Linked DNA regions of Homo sapiens: region 2 is linked to region 1. The links come from fine-mapping of genetic effects on gene expression. Tissue or cell type: cerebellum. Region 1 holds a variant in brackets; the other region holds the start of a gene. All regions are shown on one strand. Distances are from middle to middle.

What was found.
Region 2: it holds the start of LINC02331, and the variant in region 1 is fine-mapped to the expression of LINC02331 in cerebellum (GTEx, PIP 0.95).

The regions. Positions count from the first base shown.
Region 1 is chr14:53,946,619-53,949,533 of GRCh38, reverse strand. MIR5580 (microRNA 5580) reads left to right here and starts at 1,050; the gene lies at 1,050-1,107. RefSeq lists a silencer at 2,635-2,684 and an enhancer at 2,655-2,915. The variant C/T (reference allele first, on the strand shown) is at 1,514.
Region 2 is chr14:53,849,433-53,852,347 of GRCh38, reverse strand. It overlaps LINC02331 (long intergenic non-protein coding RNA 2331), which reads left to right and starts at 1,522. Exons shown (of 6, transcript NR_184221.1): 1 at 1,522-1,653; 2 at 2,378-2,533. RefSeq lists an enhancer at 1,064-2,263.

The sequences.
Region 1 (2,915 bases):
TATTTAATGTTAACAAGGATGCAGTATCCTCTCCCATCTGGATGACACATGCCTTGGAGAAACACTGGGATGAAAGGAGTGTAGGTCAGATTAAAGACTTCATTTCAGGCCCCTTGTACATCTTCTGTTTCACTCACCTGTTGAGGTGTATCACAGCTGAGCGTGATGAGGTCTCAACCCTAGAAAAATGATACCCACCTCTGCTTTCATGATACCTCAGGGTATCTCCAGTTATTACAGGTACCAATGTGATATTTCCAAATCAAAACTAATTTGTACACTAACATCATAATGTGTGTGTGAAGGCATGTTTTTAAACTTATTTTTTTTTTCTCCAGGTAGGACTCTTTTGTTTTTTCTTTTGTCTTTTTTTTTTTTTGAAACAAGTTCTCTCTTTGTTGCCCCAGGCTGGTCTTGAACTCCTGGGCTCAAGCAATCTTCTCATTTCGGCCTCTTTGGGATTACAGGCATGCACTGCTATTTTGTCTTTTTTTTTTTTTTTTGTAACAAATAATGTACCCTACCTTCAAAAAGTTTGATGACTACTGTTTTAATATGCCACTTGATAGAATTTCCCATTGTTTCTTGACTTTTTCCCTTGTCCTCTTTTCCCAATGTGAAGGCCTTCATCAAGTTTAGGATCCCAACAGATTGGGCTGGGTGGGGGTTGACAATGGGGTCAGATACTAAAGGGTCAGAATTTCTAAGCAGGCACTGTGAAGGTGTCCCACTATTATACAGAAATCTCGAGTCAAATGTCAACTCTCCTTTTCGCTCTGTACTGCCTCCCTCACACCCTCTTCCCTGGACTTGGGCAGAAAGAGGTAGATCTGATGTTCTGTGCTAGGGTTTCTTAAAGGGAAAAGCTCAATTTTTGGACAAAGTTAATAAAAAGGAGGATGCTAATGTACCCTCAGTTAAGGGCTCCCAGCAGGCAGATAAATGCCTTTCTGGAATGACGGGTGTAGGGATTAAGAGGAGCAGAGGAGAGGCCTTTGCTTTTTCTTACTTGCCACCAACAACTAAATTAAGCCTTGAATCTTGGTCTGTGCTGGCTCATTTCATATGTGTGCTGAGAAAATTCACACATATGAAGTGAGCCAGCACAGACCAAGATCCCTTTGGATCCCTTTGGAGCAGAAACATTTAGTGTCTTTGTATGTTCTCTGTGGGGAAGGCTGATAGCGCATTTCTCCATCATGAAGGTGTAGATATGAGCGGTAGTATTGCTGTTGCTGGTGGTGTGTGCACCCAAAGAATGTGTGTGGTGCACACTCCTGGCGTTTGCATTTTTCTAGGTGGGGTGTGCACCCTTGCATTCTTGTACACACTTTCTTACATACGCTCCTGGGAGTGGAGTGGGTGAAGCAGGATTCATTTTTGTTTTTAATTACTGAAGTCCTACACTCCTCCAAAAGGAGCAGCTTAGTGGAAACCAATAAAAATTGAAGCGGGGTGGTTGCCAAAACCCCAGCTCCCCGGAGAGCGCAGGTGGAGAGAAGACATCAGAGCC[C/T]CAGGCAAAGGCAGCAAGACTACACAGTTCCTCCAAAACTCCCCGCAAAAAGGGATCCTTCCCCCACCCCTCCAACCCCCCAGGTCGCTGCCCCTTTGATTAATGGTATGGAGCTCAAATAAATCATTTAGGGAAGCCCCTTATAGATTGCCCTCAGGCAGCCTCATTTTGTTTTGCCCAATTTCTAGCAACTTTCTGAAACGTCGATGTCATTGAAAAGGAACCAGTAGATCTCCAGTACTTGAACAAATTATCCTAGGGCCAGTACTGAGCCCTGTGGCTGTCCAGTTCTAGCAACCAGCCCCTTCCTCCATCCTCCCCGCTCCTACTGGCTTATTTTCAGGAATGGATAATGTTGTTTATTTGTTCAGCCAAATATTTGGTCTGGGGAATTTACCGTGAAATTCTGTGAATTGCATATACCTAGTTAACAAAATAGTCCTAATGCCACAAATGTTAGCATGGAAAACAAAGAGCTATGGCCAGCGTTAACTCTTTAAATTCTGTTTGAAAGCTTAGTCCTGAGACCCGGGGAGATTAAAAAAAAAATAAAAAAAATTGGATGTGTGTGATTTAGGTTTCGGCATTTACTATTTTTGCCTAATATTCAGTTCAGTACCTGACGGAAGTCGTAGGGTGATTCTCGGCGTTGCTTTTGGATCAAGCCTACCATTTCACCCCATTCATGTTTTTTTTTTTTTTTTTTCTCCAGAGTAATGTTCCTATTACTGAAAGAAAGATGGGGAGGGAAGCTCGCCCTTGAGGAGTTCGGCAAAGTCGTAACCACATCAGAGGAGCTGCTTGGTCGATCCCTACCCAACCCTTAAACTGGAACCGGCTTCCTAGGAGCTTAAAAAAAAAAAAAAAAGGTTGGGGGGGTGTGGAGTGGGACGCATCAAACATTCCCCTGCTTTCGTTGCATAATTCGCCCAGAACCTGCCAGGTGACCTGCTGACTTTGTTTTCTGTCTTGACCGTGCTTCGTTCCACACCCCCCTCGCCGCCGGGCAGCGCCACACTGAGAGGGCTCGGCGCGTCCGCGGCGCGGGCAGACCCCAGTAGTCACCCGGCCTTGGACTGGCGTCAAGATCCAGCCCCGCCGACCCCGCCTCCCGCCCGCTCTGGAGCTCCCAGGCCCGGCGGCGGCGGGGGCACCAGGGGGCGTCCTCCCTGCGGGGGACCAGGGGGACCGTGCACCTGGCGACGGCCCGCGGGAGCCGCGCGGCAGGCGGCCACCCCTCCCCATCCCCGCCGACCGCGGACTGCGGGTCCCCCAGCCCGGGCCCGAGAGCCGGCCCGCTCATCCGCCCTCGGGGACCCAGGCCTCAGGTGAAGCTCTGCAGACACAGACGGATCTGATTAGCGCTCGCTGGTCCTTGGGGCGGTCGCTCTGCAGATTTCAT
Region 2 (2,915 bases), 97 kb after region 1:
CTGGAGAACTCTAGAAAAATCACTCCCGTAGCAAACAAACAAACAACAAAAACAAAAACAAACACAATCAACATGACCCAGCCTTTAGCAACTGCTCCAGGAGCAGCTGTAAATAGATCCAGAGAACTTATCTGTTGCCCCTCACAGTGCCTGAACCAACATATACTCAGATAGAATAAGAAAAAATGGTGATCAACTGGTTGTCAAACCCGAGTACCTCTTACAGACAAGTAGAGTTCTGAGTTCTACAGTCTTCACTGCAGTGCCAGGGGAAATCAGCATTGCCATTCTTATTTTACAGGCAGAAAACCCCCGGCACCAAGGGATTAAACAATTTGTATTGGAATGAGATTTTACTAACTCCATAGAAAATGGACCTAAAATTTAAACATGGGTAAACCACATCCTTTATTTAAACAATATTTTACAGTCTACGATGAAAGAGTACTTAGAGATGGAATTTGCAGATTGGCTGTTCATGAGTTCACAGAAAAATTATGCAACTTTCCATTCATTCAGCAAACACGTATTCAGTTCACAGTGCTAGGCACTGTGACAGGCCCCAGAGATAAAAGCTCATCTAATAATATTACCTGCTCTCATGGAAAGCATAAGAGGACACACATGAAAGAAATAAAATGACATGGATACTGTGACAGTAACAAAAATCTGTATATGTTACAGTAAGAGCCCGAAGAGAAGACAAGTCCTGAAAGATCACTCTGTATTCGTTCTGCCCTGTGTCTGCTTGGCAACAGAGAGAATGCTAGCAAACACTGAAAGAGTTGCAATCCTTGCCAATTGCAAGCCCACAAACAGGTGAACATAATATAAGAAAGTGCTAGAAATCGTGACTGCATGTGAACATAGAATGCTATCTTTTGTGTCTAGTATCTGAAATGAGATTGTAATTATTTTCCAAATCTTCAAAAAATGGGCTTTGGAGTTTCCCACAATTTGACTTTTAAATCATAATTCTCTGCTAATGGTTATTTTGGCAAAGTAGAGCCTTATCACGGGGAGAGCCTAAAATCAACCCAGAGGTTAGACAGTTGGGAGAAGGATGGAGTTCCAGGACTTGTCAAAATTAAACACAGCTTTCAGCCCACTTATGCACTCTCTTCGTGAAACATTCTCTTGCATTGACTTTGGCAACGCCTATTTTCCTGGTTTCCTTCTAACTTACCAACATTCCTTCACAGTCTCTTTTGCTGACTCATTATCCTCTATCTTTAATAAGAGGTTTTTCAGGGCCCTTTTATTTTCTCACTATACTCTTTTCCTTGGCCATTGCCTCTTCAACCATGACTTCTATTACAATAGGAATGTCAATCACTTTCACCTGTCTTCAATTTAGATCTTTCCTCTAACACCCGGATATGTAATTCAACTCTTAACTTGATATCTCACTTGGAAGAGTTACAAGCCTCTCTGAAAAAAATCCATACAGGATGGAATGCATGGCATTTTCTCTGAAACTTCCTCCCTGTCCAGTGTTATCTACCTTGGAACGATTGTCTCATTTAGAGGGACTCTCTAACCTGAGTACACATTTGAAACATCTGAGGGCTTTGAAACATACCTGCTCCTGGACCACCTGCTGAACCAATTAAATCAGAATTTCTGTTGTGAAGATCTCCACGTGAGTTTAAGGTACGGCTAGGTTAAGAATTGCTGAATATGTCGCTCAACTTGGAAATCCGTTTGTCTTGATCTCTCCCTTTTCATTATCCTTTCATAGTCAACCACCTGTTGATATTTCATCTACTAAATAGCTCTTGACTCTGTTTTTATCATCAAAGCCATCACCAAGGTACCATCTTCGCTGGTCTGAAATAATCTTCTAACTGTTCTCATTGCCTCTAATCTTAGTTTATATCCATGCCATTGTCCACAATGCAGCCAGGGCGATTTAAATAAATCTGATCAATCACTTCCTTGCTTAAACATTGCACCGGCTTTCTGCTTGATTTTAAAATAAGCCACAGATACTTATGGCCTATACATATGTGAATATAGGGGTAGAGTTTTTGTTTGTTTGTTTTGGTCTGATCAGCAAATTTCCTCATCTCTACTCCTCTGGAACATATTTTCCTGACCCCCAACCTACCGGGTGGGCATATGATCAGGTCTCTTAGGGGTGCGGATGGTGATCCAAGCCTTCCGGGTTATCAAGGGCCCTCCTGCCTTACAATTTTGGGGACTAGAGTAGAAACAGCTTTGCCTCTGGTTTCATAGTGAAAGAGTACGAATTTGAAGCGCTTGGCAACCATCTTTCTCCCCCAACCTCACACGGTCAAACTCAGCACTCCTGACAACTGGGGGAAATCTTCTATGATGAATTAGTTATTTGAGGAATATTTTGTTTATTTTCCAGCTTTCCTGCTCAACTGTTAGTTCCATGAAGGCAACAGCCATGCCTGCTTCGTTCACTGAAATATCTTCGTTTCCTAACACACAGAAAGTCATCATTTTTTGACGGATGAAAGAATGGATGAATGCCTAGTCTTGGAGACATCTACTTGCAATAAAGGTTAGATGAAGGAAATGGATGCCAGTGGGAGATTTGTGGATCTATTTCACCAGATTTCACTCTGCTGACTCAGCAAAATGGTCCCCGAAGAAAGTATGTATGATATATGAATGCCTAGCCACCTGTCTTGGAACAAACAGGGATTTCTTTAGCTTTCTCCCACCAGGAGATGCTCCCCTGGCATTTTTCAATACTCCTCTTCCCTAAAAGGTAAAATTTACGTCCCGATAGTCACAGTGGGCTGCTTTATTGTACAATCTGACATCAGAATGGAAGGAGAGAGTATGCTTTTTAAGTTCCTTAAAATGCAGTTCTATTGAAAATAGCTGTTGAGACAAATAAAATAAGCTGCTAAGGAACAATAAGAGACATGATGGAGTTA